Regions from separate parts of the Homo sapiens genome. Here region 2 is linked to region 1. Evidence: fine-mapped expression QTL. Tissue or cell type: whole blood. Region 1 holds a variant in brackets; the other region holds the start of a gene. All regions are shown on one strand. Distances are between the middles of the regions.

Region 1 (8,103 bases):
CAGCCTGGGCAACAGAGCAAGACTCCGTCTCAAAAAAAAAAGAGAGAGAGAGAAAAAAAAAAAAAAAAGAGGAAGAGGAAGCGGAAGAATAACCACCCAAACCAATCGGTCTGCAGGGCTTGGGATTCAGCTTTTAAAAATTACATACATTTGCCCAACTCCAATCTTCCAGTTGTTCCCACTCTCCACAATTTCTTGAAGATTACTGCCTGCATTTCCTCGGTCACATGTGCCAATTATTTCAGTCCTCTGGAATGTCATTCATCAGGTTTAGAAACTTTTCGACAAGGTGAATATGGTAACGAAGTCCAAGAGTTGGATGTTTTCCCGCCCTTCTGAACCTCTTCCCTTCGCATACTCTTCTCCTCTGATGACTTCTCCTTTAGTCCGTGTTTACATTTTGTGATTTCTTAGACGTGAGCTCCTAGGCAACAGAAAGAGCTGGGGTAGTTGCGTGCACAGTGAGATGCACCTTAGGAAACTGTGGGCTTCTGGGGTGGCCTTCCCCTAAGTTCCCTGTGTGACTGTTGTAGATGTTTGTAGCTCAGTCTACCTAGCAACCCCTCCTCCTTCTGGAAACAGCTCTAGGTTTCCTGGGTGGGGTTTCCTTCTCCCCCTTGGTGTCTGTGGTCCTGGTGAGGCAGACCGCCACCCATGGGCTCCAGGAATAAGCAGGCGACTCAGGTCAATCCGGACACCAACATAGCTCAGCTCTGGCTGTGGTGATTGGCTGAAAGATGGACATGTGACCTAAGAGAGTCCAGTGAAAGTCAGTTCTGAGATGTTTTCTAGAAATACTGGAAAAGAGATGTTCTTTTTCTACCATGATTGCTTTGTGGTGGGATGTAAGGTTGACTGCTGTGAGCCTCGCTGGGCCACCATATGGGAAATTACCAAGAATGAAGCATTTACCTTTCCTATAGTCCCTGAAAAAAAAAAATAAAAATAAAAATGAAAATAAAAATAAAAATGAAGCTAACACAGGCCGGGCACTGTGGCTCATGCCTGTAATCCCAGCACTTTGGGAGGCCGAGGTGGGCACATCACCCGAGGTCAGGAGTTCGAGACCAGCCTGGCCAACATGGTGAAACCCCGTCTCTACTAAAAAAATTACAAAAATTAGCCAGGCGTGCTGGCATGTGCCTGTAATCCCAGCTACTCAGGAAGCTGAGGTAGGAGAATTGCTTGAACCCTGGAGGTGGAGGTTGCAGTGAGCTGAGATGGTGCCACTGCCCTCCAGCCTGGGCGACAGAGTGAGATCCGTCTCAAAAAAAAAAAAAAAAAAGTTAAATAAAGGAAATGGATCAGGAAATAGAGACAGCCAGACGCAGTGGCTCACGCCTGTAATCTCAGCACTTTGGGAGGCCGAGGCGGGTGGATTGATTGAGACCAGGAGTTTGAGACCAGCCTGGCCAACATGGTGAAACCATACAAAATTAACTGGGCGTGGTGGTGCATGCCTTTAATCCCAGCTACTAAAGAGGCTGAAGCAGAAGAATTGCTTGAACCCGAGAGATGGAGGTTGCAGTGAGCTGAGATCGCATCACTGCACTCCAGCCTGGGCTACAGAGCGAGACTCTGTCTCAAAAAAAAAAAAAAAAAAAAAGAAGCTAACACAAAGGAAATGAATCAAGAAATAGGGAAACAGTACTGATCTCACTGTGTGAGCCTCTGGGTCCATCCATACCTAAAGCTGGTACAAGCTGTACCCTTGCTATCAGGTGAGCCTGTGAATTCTCTTTTCATAACCAATTTGATCGTGATTTTTGTCACTTGTTGGCAAGAATAACACAGTGTCTGGCCAGGTGCGATGGCTCACATCTGTAATTCTAGCACTTTGGGAGGCCAAGGGCGAGGGATCACTGGAGGTCAGGAGTTTGAGACCAGCCTGGCCAACATGGTGAAACCCCATTGCTACAAAAATACCAAAATTAGCTGGGTGTGGTGGCAGGCACCTGTAGTTCCAGCTACTCGGGAGGCTGAGGCAGGAGAATCGCTTGAACCCGGGAAGTGGAGGTTGCAGTGAGCCGAGATCATGCCACTGTGCTCTAGCCTGGATGACAGAGTGAGACTCTGTCTCAAAAATAAATAAATAAATACATAAATAAAATAAAATAAAAATAAAATAATGAATAAAATTTTTAAAAATGTAAAAAAACCCATCCAGGAATGGCCAGTTATTTCCCAACATCCATTTTTTGCCCTTCTTCACATTAAGAGAGTCCAATTTTTTCTCTTTTTTTTTGTGAGGGGACAGGGTCTCAGTGTGTTACCGAGGCTGGAGTGCAGTGGAACAATCACAGTTCACTGCAGTCTCGACCTCCTGGACTCAAGCCATCCTCCCACCTCAGCCTCTCAAGTAGCTGGGACCAGAGACACGTGCCACCACACCTGGCTAAATTTTTTTTCTTTTCTTTTTTTTTTTTGTAGAAACGGTCTCACTATGCTGCCCAGGCTGTTCTTGAACTCCTGGACTCAAGTGGTCCTCTTGTCTCAGCCTCCCAAAGGGCTGGAATGATAGGCATGAGCCACTGTGCTTGGCCAGATTCCAATTTTTATTCTAGCACGTTGCCACCTAGAACTTAGAATAAAGGTTAAATTTCCCGGTTTCCTTTGCAGTTAGGTATAGATGAAAAAGTAGTGTCACTTTATAGCTTAGTCATATGTCTAAGTTCTGGCCAATGAGATGTAAGTTGACATGAGTGGAGGCTCCCAGAAAGGAAAGGGTGCACCCTTTTCTCCCTTCCCGCTTCCTGCTGCCAGGAATGCAGATTTGATGGATGGCATTCCAGCCACTATCTTGAGTCATGTGGATTTAAGAATGGAAGCAGACAGACAGAAACAAGGTTTCTGGGGAAAGAGGACCCACCATGCCAGCCTTGGAGAACTAATCTATAGACTTCTTTTACATGAGAAGAGAAATAAACTTTTATCTCATTGAAGCCACCAATCTGTCCTGTCTCTGTTACTATATCCAAAGTTGAGTCTGATTGACAGTGCCATGTTCCTCACACCCTGGCCACATGTTGTATTATCAGTTATTTTTTCATTTAGCCTATCTGACAGGTGAAAAAGTAGTGTCACTTCATAGTTGTAAATTCATTTCTGATAAGAGCTGATCTTATTTTTGTAGATTTTGAGCCATTTGTGGGATTTTGGGTCTGTGAACCATCTTCCCTCCCTTCCCCTCCTCTTCTCTCCCCTCCCCTCTCCTCTCGTCTTTCTTTTCTCTCCCTGTCTCTCTCTCTCCCTTTCTTTCTTCCTTTTTTTTTTTTTTTTCCAGACAGGGTCTGGCTCTTTCACCCAGGCTGCAGTGCAGTGCTGCAATTATGAATCACTGCAGCCTCCACCTCTCTAGGCTTAAGCAATCCTCCCATTTCAGCCTCCCAAGTAGCTGAGACTATAGGTGTGCGCCACCATGCCCAGCTAACTTTTTTAGGGATGGTGTCTTGCCGTGTTGCCCAGGCTGGTCTCAAACGGCTGGGCTTAAGCAAGCCTCCAGCCATGGCCTCCCCAAGTGCTGGGATTACAGGCCCCATTTCTTTCTTTCTCTCTTTTTTTTTTTTTTTTTTTTTTTTGAGATGGAGTCTTGCTCTGTCGCCCAGGCTGGAGTGCAGTGGTGCGATCTCGGCTCACTGCAAGCTCCGCCTCTGGGGTTCACGCCATTCTCCTGCCTCAGCCTTCCAAGTAGCTGGGACTACAGGCGCCCACCACCTCGCCCGGCTAATTTTTTGTATTTTTAGTAGAGACGGGGTTTCACCGTGTTAGCCAGGTTGGTCTCCTGACGTTGTGATCCACCTGCCTCGGCCTCCCAAAGTGCTGGGATTACAGGCCCCATTTCTTTCTTGACTCCATTCTCAGTCAGCCCCATTCCTGTGATTCCAAGATGGCTGCCAGCAGCTCTGGACTTTCATCCCACCTCTCAGCACCCTCAGCAGGGAGAATGCCGCTTTCCTGGATGGTGCAACAAAAGTTTAGGGATTGTCACGAGAAAGAGAGGACAAGCCACAGACTGAGAGAAACATCTGCAAAAACATATCTTGATAAAGGTCTTTTATCCAAATAACACAACAATCCGGCTGGGCACAGTGGCTCTTGCCTGTAATTCCAGCACTTTGGAGGCTGAGGCAGGTGGATCGCCTGAGGTCAGGAGTTCGAGACCAGCCTGGCCAATACGGCGAAACCCAGTCTCTACCAACAATATAAAAATTAGCCAGGCGTGGTGGTGCATGCCATAATTCCAGCTACTCAGGAGGCTGAGGTAGGAGAACGGTTTGAACCCAGGAGGCAGAGGTTGCAGTGAGCCGAGATGGCGCCATTGCACTCCAACCTGGGCAACAGAGCGAGACTCCGTCTCAAAAAAAAAAAAAATTAATTAATTAAATAAAAATAAAAATAAAAAAACACGTAACTCAACAATCTGAAAATAGAGCTGGGCATGGTGGCATATGCCTGTAGTCTATTCAGGAGGCTAAGCTAAAAGAATCACTTGAGCCCAGGAGTTCAAGATTGTAATGTGCTATGATCCTGACTGTGAATAGCCACTGCACTCCAGTTTGGGCAATATAGCACGATGCTGACTCGTTTAAAAAAACACGAACGTGAACGACCTGATTAAAAAATGAGCAAGGCCAGGCGTGGTGGCTCATGCCTATAATCCCAGCACTTTGGGAGGCTGAGGCAGGTGGATCATGAGGTCAGGAGTTCAAGACCAGCCTGGCCAAGATGGTGAAGCCCCATCTCTACTAAAACTACAATAATTAGGCGGGCATGGTGGCAGGTGCCTGTAATCCCAGCTACTCAGGAGGCTAAGGCCGGAGAATCGCTTGAACCTGGGCAGCAGAGGTTGCAGTGAGCCAAGAACACACCACTGCACTCCAGCCTGGGCAACAGAGTGAGACCT[C/T]GCCTCAAAAAAAAAAAGCCAGAGGTGGTGACTCATGCCTGTAAATCCAGCACTTTGGGAGGCTGAGATGGGTGGATTGCTTGAGCCCAGGAGTTCGAGACCAGCCTAGGCAACATGGCAAAACCCTATTTCTACAAAAAATACAAAAAATTAGCTGAGTGTGAAGGCACGGCCCTGTAGTCCCAGCTACTTGGCGGGGCTAAGGTAGGAGGATTGCTTGAGCCAGGAAGGTAGAGGTTGTAGTGTACCGAAATCACACTACACTCCACCCTGGGTGATAGAGTGAGACCCTGTCTCAAAAATAAATTAAAAAAAAATTAAAGGCCTGGCACAGTGGCTCACGCCTGTAATCCCAGAACTTTGGGAGGCCGAGGCAGGTGGATCACCTGAGGTAGGGAGTTCGAGACCAGCCTGACCAACATGGACAAACGCTGTCTCTACTAAAAATACAAAATTAGCTGGGCATGATGGCACACATTTGTAATCCCGGCTACTCGGGAGGCTGAGGCAGGAGAACCGCTTGAACCCGAGAGGCAGAGGTTGCAGTGAGCCGCGATCCTGCTATTGTACTCCAGCCTGGGCAACAAGAGTGAAACTACGTCTCAAATAAAAAAAAAAAAAAAAAGAAAAAGAAAATTAAAATTAAAAAATAAATGGGCAAAAAACTCTGAACAGATACCTTACCAAAGAAGATATACACGGCCGGGCATGGTGGCTCATGCCTGTAATCCTAGCACTTTGGGAGGCCGAGGTGGGTGGATCATGAGGTCAGGAGTTCAAGACCAGCCTGGCCAAGATGGTGAAACCCCGTCTCTACTAAAACTACAAAAATTAGCTGGGTGCGGTGGCAGGTGCCTGTAATCCCAGCTACTCGGGAGGCTGAGGGAGGAGAATCACTTGAACCCGGGAGGCAGAGGTTGCAGTGAGCCAAGATTGTGCCACTGTACTCCAGCCTGGACGACAGAGCAAGACTCTGTCTCAAAAAAAAAAAAAAAAATATATATATATATATATATATACACACACATAGCAAGACTCTCTCAAAAAATATATGTATATACAGATGGCAAATAAGCACATAAAAAAGTGCTTAATGTCATATGTCATTAGGGAATTGCAAATTAAAAAAATGAGGTACCACTACTCACCTATTAGATAACAGCTAAATTTTTTTTTCTTTGTTTTGAGACAAGGTCTCATTCTGCCACCCGGGCTGGAGGACAGTGACGTGATCACTGATCACTGCAGCCTTGACTTGCTGGGTTCAAGGGATCTTCCCACCTCAGCCTTCTGAATAGCTGGGACTACAGGTGCACGCCACCCTGCCTGGCTAATTTTTAAATTTTTTGTAGAGATGGGAGTCTCCCTATGTTGCCCAGGCTGGTCTCAAACTCCTGGGCTCAAGTAATCCGCTGGCCTCAGCCTCCCAAAGTGCTGAGATTACAGGCATGAGCCACTGTGCCTGGCCTAGGATGGCTAAAATTTTTTCTTTTCTTTTCTTTTCTTTCTTTTTTTTTTTTTTTTGAGGCGGAGTCTCGCTCTGTCGCTCTGTCGCCCAGGCTGGAGTGCAATGGTGATATCTCGGCTCACTGCCACCTCTGTCTCGCGGGTTCAAACGATTCTCCTGCCTCAGCCTCCCAAGTAGCTGGGATTACAGGCAAGTGCCACCATGCCTGGCTAATTTTTGTATTTTTAGTAGAAACGGGTTTTCACCATGTTGGCCAGGATAGTCTCGATCTCCTGAACTCATGATCCTCCCACCTCAGCCTCCCAAAGTGCTGAGGTTACAGGTGTGAGCCACCATGCCTGGCCGAATGGCTAATGACTAAAATTTTTAAAAATGACAACACCAAATGCTGGTCAAGATGTTGAGCAACAGGAGCTCTCATTCATTGCTGTGGAAATGCAAAATGGCACAGCTACCTCGGAAGACAGTCTGATAGTTTCTTCTAAAACTGAAATGCTCTTCCTACATGATCCAGCAATTGCACTCCTTGGCATTTAACCCAAGTGAATCGGAAACTTACATCCACACAAACACTCGCACACAAATGTTTATAACAGATGTATTCGTAATTGCCAAACTTGGAAGCAACCAAGCTGTCCTTCAGTAAGTGAATGGATAAACTGTGGTACGTCCAGACAGTAGAATATTATTCAGTGCTGGCCGGGCGCAGTGGCTCATGCCTATAATCCCAGCACTTTGGGAGGCCGAGGCTGGCGGATCACTTGAAGCCAGTAGTTCATGACCAGCCTGGCCAACATGGCGAAAACCCATCTCTATTAGAAAAAAAAAAAAAAAAAAATAGCCGGGCATGGTAGCACACACCCGTAATCCCAGCTACTCAGGAGGCTGAGGTGGGAGAATTGCTTGAACCCAGGAGGCAGAGGTTGCCGTGAACCAAGATTGCACCACTAAACTCCAGCCTGGATGACAGAGCAAGACTCTGTCTCAAAAAAAAAAAAAAGAATATTATTTAGTGCTAAAATGAAATAAGTCGCCAAAACATAAAGAGGTGTGGAGAAACCTTGCCTTAGTCTGTTTTCTGTTACTATAACAGAATACTAGAGACTAGGTAATTTATAAAGGAGAGAGGTTTATTTAGCTCAAGATTCTGGAGGTGGGGTTGTCTAAGATCTGCAGGATATGGGATTCAGCTTTTAAAAACTGAGCTTCTGGTCGGGCTTGTAGCTTACACCTATAATCCCACTACTTCAGGAGGCTGAGACAGGAGGATCACTGAAGGCCAGGAATTTGAGACCAGCCTGGACAAGATAGGGAGACCTCTTCTCTACAAAAATAAAAATAAAATGGGCCAGGTGCAGTGGCTCACACCTGTAATCCCAGCACTTTGGGAGGCTGAGGTGAGCGGATCACAAGGTCAGGAGATGGAGAACATCTTGGCCAATATGGTGAAACCCCGTCTCCACTAAAAATACAAAAATTAGGCCGGGCATGGTGGCTCATGCCTATAATTCCAGCACTTTGGGAGCACTTTGGGAGGCTCGTTCAATTCGAGCACTTGAACGCCTGAGATCAGGAGTTCAAGACCAACACGGTAAAACCCTGTCTCTACTAAAAATACAAAAATTAGCTGGATGTGGTGGCACGCACCTGTAATCCCAGCTACTAGGGAGGCTGAAGCAGGAGAATCGCTTGAACCCGGGAGGCGGAGGTTGCAGTGAGCTCCAATCATGCC
Region 2 (8,103 bases), 60 kb after region 1:
AAAGCAGGGTGATATGACTGTGTTTGTGCCTGTGTGTGTGTTTAGTGCTTTAGAAGTTCTATCCGAGAAGGAGACATTGCAGCAGAGACTTGAATGGCAATAGAGAGCAAGCCAGGAGGAAAGAAAATTCTAGGCAAAAGGAACAACAGGTGCACAGGTCCTGAGGCAGGAATATGCTTGGTGTGTTCAGGAATGTTAGTGTGACATGGGGTGAGATATAGGGAGAGATATATCACCTGAGATCAGGGAGGGGAGCAGAGACCAAATCAATTAGGGTCAGAGTAGTTTGTTTTCTTAAATGGAGTCAGGGTCTCCCTCTGTCACCCAGGTTGGAGTGCACTGGCACAATTACGGCTCACTGCAGCCTCGAACTTCCGGGCTCAAGCAATCCTCTCACCTCAGCTTTCTGAGTAGCTAGGACTAGAAGCGTGGGCCACCACACCCAACTAGGGTCTGAGTTTTATCCCAAATGCAATGGGATGCCATTCGAAGCTGTTTAGGTTGGAAGTTTTTTGTTTTGTTTTGTTTTGTTTTGTTTTTGAGATGGAGTTACGCTCTTGTTGCCCTGGCTGGAGTGCAGTGGCATGATCTTGGCTTACTGCAACCTCTGCCTCCTGGGTTCAAGAGATTCTCCTGCTTCAGCCTCCCAAGTTGCTAGGACTACAGGTGTGTGCCACCATGCCCAGCTAATTTTGTATTTTTAGTAGAGACAGGGTTTCACTATATTGGTCAGGCTGGCCTCAAAACCCTGACCTCAAGTGATCTGCCTGCTTTGCCCTCCCAAAGTGCTGGAATTACAGGCGTGAGCCACCGTACCCGGCCTAGGTTGGAAGTAACATGATTTAATACATGATTTTTCAAGGATCCCTCTGGCTACTGTATTGGGAGTGCCCTGTAGAGGATGAAAGGGAGAGAAGCAAGGAGAGTAGCTAGGAGACAGGTGCAGTTGCTGAGGTGAAAGGCCATACACGTGTGAGCATTTCATCTCTGGGTTCTCAGCATCTAACGCAGTATTTTATTTTATTATTTTTATTTTATATATATATATATTTGAAATGGAGTCTCACTCTGTCGCCCAGGCTGGAGTGCAGTGGTGCAAGCATGGCTCACTGCAGCCTTGACCTCCCCTACTCAGGCAATCCTCCCACCTCAGCCTCCTGAGTACTTGGGAATACAAGCAGGCGCCACCACACCAAGCTAATTTTAAAATTTTTTGTAGAGACTGGGTATCTGCTTTGTTGCCAAGGCTGGTCTTGAACTCCTGGGCTCAAGCAATCTCTCGGCCTTCCAAAGTGTTGGGATTACAGGCCTGAGCCACTGTGCCCTGGTGGAAATATATATATATATATTTTTTTGAGACAGAGTTTCGCTCTTGTGGCCCAGGCTGGAGTGCAGTGGCGCGATCTCGGCTCACTGCAACCTCTGCCTCCCGGGTTCAAGTGATTCTCCTGCCTCAGCCTCCCGAGTAGCCAGGATTATAGGCGCCTGCCACCATGCCCAGCTAATCTTTTGTATTTTTAGTAGAGACGGGGTTTCGCCATGTTGGGCAGGCTGGTCTGGAACTTCTGACCTCAGGTGATCTGCCCACCTTGGCCTCCCAAAGTGTTGGGATTACAGGTGTGAGCCACCGTGCCCGGCCCAGAAATGAGATATTTAATTTTTTAATTTTTACTTTTTTTTTTTTTGAGACGGAGTTTCACTCTTGTTGCCCAGGTTGGAGTGCAATGGTGCCATCTCGGCTCACCGCAACCTCTGCCCCCAGGTTCAAGTGATTCTCCTGCCTCAGCCTCCTGAGTAGCTCGGATTACAGGCATGTGCTACCATGCCCAGCTAATTATGTATTTTTAGTAGTGACGGGGTTTCTCCATATTGGTCAGGCTGGTCTTGAACTCCCGACCTCAGGTGATCTGCCTGCCTTGGCCTCCCAAAGTGCTGGGATTACATTCGTGAGTCACCGCGCCCAGCCAAAATGAGATATTTTAAATAACATAAGTAAACAGAAATATATCATGATTTTAATGATAATTCATGCTCTGAAAATAAATGAAGAAAGGAATAGGAGTAGGGAAAGCTGGGATCAGAGTGGGCAGGAAGTTAAAATAGAGCAGTTAGGGAAAGCCTCACTGAATAAGTGACATTTGGACAATGACCATGGGGAGATTAGGGAATGGGTTATTTGAATTTTCTGGGAAAATACTGTTCTAGGCAGAGGAAATAGCAAGTGCACGATCTTTAAGGCCAGAGTGTGCTAAGCACGTTGGAGAGGCCGAGTCCATTGTAGCTGAGTTACAGAAGTGAGTGGAAGAGAAGAAGGTGATGAGTTTAGAGAGGGAAGGGCAGGGCAAGAGACGGGCTGTATGGGGCTTTGCAGGTTACTGCAAGAATTTTGCAGGAGGGACAGAGACTGACTTGGTTCTTACCAGGATTCCTCTGGCTGCTGTGTTGAGTATAGACTCTAAGAGGAAAGAGTGGAAGCAGGCAGAACACTGAGGAGGCTGTTGCAGTGGTCCAGGTGGGAAATGATGGTGCTGACCGTGGAGGTGGTAAGTGGTCAGATTATTCTATTTTATTTACACTCAACACATCTAATACTGACTCAATATTATCTAACATACAGTCCACATTGAAATTGCCCCCCAAATTCTTTTTACATAAAAAAATCATCCTGAATCCAATCAAGTCTCACCTATTGCTTTTGGTTTTCACCTCTTTCATGCTGTCATATTTTAAAAGACTCCAGGCTAGATGTTGTGTAGAATGTCCCACATTCTGAATTCGTTTATTTTTTCAAGTAAGCTTTTTGTGTGTATGTGGCAAGAATACGACAGAGGTAGCAATATGCTTTCCCCACTGCATCATATTAGGAGACACATAACAACAGTCCTGACCCATTATTGGTGGTGCTAAGTTCGATCACTTGGTAAGGGGGTGCCTGCCAGATCTTTCCATTGTAAAGCAAGCTGTTCTTTATTGTAAGTCATAAATACGCTGTGGGATGATACTTCGGGACTAAATATACCCTGAATATACTGCTGCCCAACAACATTTCACCCAGTGACTTTAGCAGCTAAGGAACAGCCTCGTGGCTTCCGACCTTGTGCCTCAGTTCGCTCATCTGAAAAATGAGGATGATCATGGTCCCTACCGGATGCTTGTTTTGAGGATCCGTGCTTGGCATACCAGAAACGCTCCACAAATGTTAGGTATTACTGGACGAAGGCAAATATGAAAAAAATTAAGGGCAGGGCTAGGACTGCATTCCGGTTCTCCGGATCCCGAGGGAGCTCCCAGTCGATGCTGGGCGAAAGCGGCCGCACGAGCCCACGTCGCCACGCCCTCCGCCGCGGAAGCCAGGGTGGGGGTCGCTGGAACCCTAGGCCGGCCGCGCAAGGCCCCCTGGGACCGGTAGTGCTGGGCGTGGCCTCGGGACTACATATCCCAGTGGCCCCCGTGCGGCGACTTTAGCTGCTGCTGTCTCAGCCGCTCCACAGCGACGGCAGCGGCTGCGGCTTAGTCGGTGGCGGCCGGCGGCGGCTGCGGGCTGAGCGGCGAGTTTCCGATTTAAAGCTGAGCTGCGAGGAAAATGGCGGCGGGAGGTGAGTGGAGATAAAGGAGGAGGCGGTGGCGGGCGAGGGGGTGGAGTGCGAGGCGGAGGGAAGAGGGGCGAGTTCCCCAGGCTGCGAGAGCCAGCGGCTTCAGATCTGCCAAGGCACTGAGGGGCGCGCCGGCCGGGGGACGCGCTGAGGTAGTTTCGGGGTGTCGGGGCCGCGCCGCTTCCCCTCAGCCCGGGGGGCGGCCCGCGGCGGTAGGAGCTGAGACGAAGCTGGGTGGCAGTCCGCTTGGGGATCCGAGGGGGTCCCCGCGCGGAGGGGTCACCCGAGGAGTTTGCGGGGGGACTGCAGGGGCCCACTTTCCCCTTCTGTCCCTAAAGTTTTTTCTTCCTCTTGCCTCCCCCAGCCCTTTTGAAAGCTCCCCGCGTCGTCCTCCTGCTGCCCCGGCTCCTTAGCAGCTTCTGGGACGCACGGGAGGGAAAAGCCGCGGGGACCCCCCCCACCCCAGCCTCCCAGCCGGGTGAGATTTGGTTGCTGTGTTTCCTCCTCACTTGGGCATTTAAAAAATATTTTAACACGAATTGTCCGCGGAATTTTCATGTTGGGCTCGGGTAGCTTCTTAGTTTTCTCGGTAAAAAGGCGTTTTACTACCTCTGGTGTGAAGGCTGGGAAATGGCAAGTGGGAAGTTGGTTGATAAAATTAGGAGTTTGGCTGTCTTTATTACTACTTTTTTTTTTTTTTTGCTCTCCCCATCTCTCATTTTATGAACATCGACCCAGTTCGTCATGGTTTAAATAAACTGCTTGTCTTGTACCTGCCTTAACAAAACTAGCCATGGGTCGTTGGGAGACTTAGTTGCTTCCTAGGCAGTTTGAGGGCATCTAGGGTGGAAAAGTTAACCGAGAGAGCGAGCATCTACCTCACTGGCAGGATCTGGGATTCCCAAATGGAATGACACGGAAGCTATGAGATTCTCTCGAAGTCGAAACTTTTTTCCCCCTCCCGAATGCGAAGACTTCCTTTTTGCAATATTTGAGCAGGGCTTCAAAACCAACCTGTTTTTGTTATTAAGCCTGTACGGTAAAGAAACAGGAAGGAGAGTACCAGCTGTCTTGCTGCAGTGGTTTTAAATGGAGTTGAATGAGATGCGTGAGAGTGGTAGTAGTATTGAGTAAGATTGCTGCATCTCTTTGATTTAAATGCCTGGCCTCGGATCCACCTAACTGATCCCTGGCTGCAAAAAAGCTTCAGTATTTGTTGCAGCAGGTTGTTGAGAAGGTGATTGGAGGAATAAAAATCTTAGGTCTTCAGCGAATGCTGCACAAACGAAAATGTTAATGGAAACCTGTAAGTTTGTGAATTGTTTGTTCTTGAAAATATTTTAAATGTATGCTCATTTAGAATATGGTTCTACCGAATGATATCCAATTGGAAAGGTACAAACACATTGAAAAGTGAATCTCTCTTTCACGCCAAACCCTACAGTTTCCCCTTCTCAGAGGCAAAGACTGTTACTGGTTTTTAGAATATCCTTGGTCTTTGGAATAATTATTTTAAGATTTTCATTTGAAACCACTTCTGTTGGATACCAAAAGCAGGGAAATAAAATGAACAGAAGAAACAGAAAATGTGGGAATACTGTTTTTGCTCTCTTAAAAAAAATGTTGATAGCTATTGGAAAAAGCTCTTCAGAACTTACTGCTTATGTCACCTTATCTATTAATACCGTTAAATAACAATCTGTGGGGCTTTAGGATAAAGAACTCTGCCAGGGTTCATTGTTTGTATGTACAATGAATCCTCTGCTTGTAACATGTAAAATGATATTGAACACTATAGCTCCTGTCACTAGAGGTTGCTTCAGGTTCTGCATTTCAATGAGCAGAAATCTAAATTGCCTGTGATCCTAAATTATAGGGGCATTTTATGTATAGATGGAAATGACTTAATTGTCCAATCAGCATTTGAAATAAGAGGCATATACCAGCTTTTGGCATATAGAAGATGGGGATTGTGGACTAAGCGGGAGGCTGTAATATTTCTAGAGCAGTTATAGGAAATATTTCTGCCATAAGATATTTAATTACAAAGGCTTTGAAAATGTACAACTTAAGCATCAATAGCGAGATTTATATTTTTATATTTTAGAATGGTTGTTTTAACAGCTTGCCAACACTAACAATTTGCTAAGGAAATTCAGTGATATTAGAGCTAGGTTATTAAAGATTATATTAAATAATTTAACTGTATTTTGAAAATGATTATGCTGTGCATTTCCTTCTCTGTATAAAAATTATTTCTAAAAAGTGCCACGCACCTCCCGAGCAAATAAAATAGAATTCAGTAAGGAGTGAAGTACTGTTGTACGTGAGACCCTTTTTCTAGGCGATATGCAAATAAAAAGTAGTTTAAAAATGGTTGCTTACTAATGTCTTCTTGACTGGTCTTTTGAAATAAGCTTTCTTGCAGGGACATTACATTAAAGATAAAAGCTAAGTGTGTCTTTTTTTTTTTTTTTTTTTTTTTTTAACGAATTCAGTTCTTTCTGCCGGGCTGCAGTGGCTCAGGCCTGTAATCCCAGCACTTTGGGAAGCCAAGGCTGGTGGATCACGAGGTCAGGAGTTTGAGAACAGCCTGGCAAAGATGGTGAAACCCCTTCACTACTAAAAATACAAAAAATTAGCCGGGCGTGGTGGCGAGCACCTGTAGTTCCAGCTACTCAGGAGGTTGAGGCAGAAGAATGGCTTGAACCCGGGAGGCGGAGGTTGCAGTGAGCCGAGATTGCACCACTGCACTCCAGCCTGGGCAACAGAATGAGACTCTGTTTCAAAAAAAAAAAAAATTCTGTCTTGTGCATTAGCAGTATGATTCTGGAATAATTCATTTTAACTTGGAGTACTGTAATTGAAAAGTCTTTAAAAGAAAATTAAAAAATAAATTTTAGTTTGGACAATAGGGTAAGATTTAAAAACTCTGCTATTGTCCTATCCCAAATTGATGGTTAAAATAAATGGCTTTGGGTTTTTGGTTTTTTTTTTTTTTTTTTTTTTTTTTGCGGGCAGGGGCGTTTTTTTTTTTTCTTTTCTTTCTTTTTTTTTTTTTTTGAGAAGGAAATTTGCTCTGTTGCCCAGGCTGGAGTGCAGCGGCGCGATCTTGGCTCACTGCAACCTCTGCCTCCTGGGTTCAAGCAATTCTCCTGTGTCAGCCTCCCAAGTAGCTGGGATTACAGGTGCGCACCACCACGCCCGGCTATTTTTGTATTTTTAGTAGAGACAAAGTTTACCATGTTGGCCAGGCTGGTCTCGAACTCCCAACCTCAGGTAATCCACCTGCCTTGGCCTCCCAAAGTGCTGGGATTACAGGTGTGAGCCATCACGCCAGCCTGCATTTTTTAAAAACTATATAATTTCACACTTTGGCCAGAGGAGGTAGAGTACTTTTGAAAACTTTTAATTTGTTGCAAGTTTAGAATGCATATTAGCCGCCAGTGACTTTTGGTCTACAACAGCAAATTTGTCACAATTTAATACAGTTGTTACCCTGTAAAGCTATCTAGGATTAGAAAAAAAACAAGACTTGTTGATCATGATTGAAGAGATTACCTGTAGCAGTTTGGTTCATATCCTTGGTATAAATATTTGTTTTTTGCATTACTGAGCGGTTAAAGCTCTGAGAGCAGAAAATTAGTATTGGAAATGTATGTTAACTTTTTCTTATTTTTTTCTCATACTTCAAAAAATTGAAAAACAAGGGGACTATATTGGTTTGGATTCTCAGGAATAGCTTTGAGATTGAGTGCTGCAGTAAAATGTAGGCATTTTCTCCTTTTTTTTTTTTTTTTTTTGAGACAGAGTCTCACTCTGTTGCTCAGGCTGGAGTGCAGTGGCATGATCTCGGCTCACTGCAACCTCTGCCTCCCAGGTTCAAGCGATTCTCGTGCTTCAGCCCCTGCCCGAGTAGCTGGGACTACCGGCGCTCGCCACCATGCCCGGCTAATTTTTGTATTTTTAGTAGAGATGGGGTTTCATCGTGTTGGCCAGGCTGGTCTCGAACTCCTGACCTCAAGTGATCCTCCTGCTTTGGCCTTCCAAAGTGCTGGGGTTACAGGCGTGAGCCACCGCTCCCGGCCCATTTTCTCCCATTTTATGAGTGCTTCTTGGGGTTGGGGAGGGGTTACAAAATAAACACTTCAGAATTAAGGTGGAGGAGGGGCTTTGTGGTAATGAGGCATATTCCATGAGTTTGGTCATGTTTTTACTAGGTAAATTCATTTTGTCTATCATTTTTCTGAGAGGGTTTCTGGGAGAAGATTATTTTAGGTTAAAGATGCAATTTATCCAGAGCCTAACTTTATTTTCAGCCCCCTAACAAATTATGGAATTGAATTTAATTGCCTTTCCCTTTCCTACCTTCTGGTGGAGAGTTTTTAAATGAACAGGAAAATGGCCAGAAAATACACAGCAGGAGTAGGATGGGAGACCTGCAGTGTGTAGAAGGCCGATTTATCCACAAACTGGATAATCTTCTTAGGCTGCATACTGCCAGTACCAA

Evidence for each region. PIP is the estimated chance that this variant, and not a neighbour inherited with it, causes the effect.
Region 2: NCOA3 starts here. The variant in region 1 is fine-mapped to the expression of NCOA3 in whole blood (TOPMed, PIP above 0.99).

The regions. Positions count from the first base shown.
Region 1 is chr20:47,438,586-47,446,688 of GRCh38, forward strand. No RefSeq gene overlaps it. Among named protein-coding and RNA genes, the nearest start is that of LINC01754, 30 kb to the left of the region's middle. The variant C/T (reference allele first, on the strand shown) is at 4,904.
Region 2 is chr20:47,498,424-47,506,526 of GRCh38, forward strand. It overlaps NCOA3 (nuclear receptor coactivator 3), which reads left to right and starts at 3,464. Exons shown (of 23, transcript NM_181659.3): 1 at 3,464-3,596. RefSeq lists a cis regulatory region at 2,380-2,452 and a silencer at 3,704-3,823.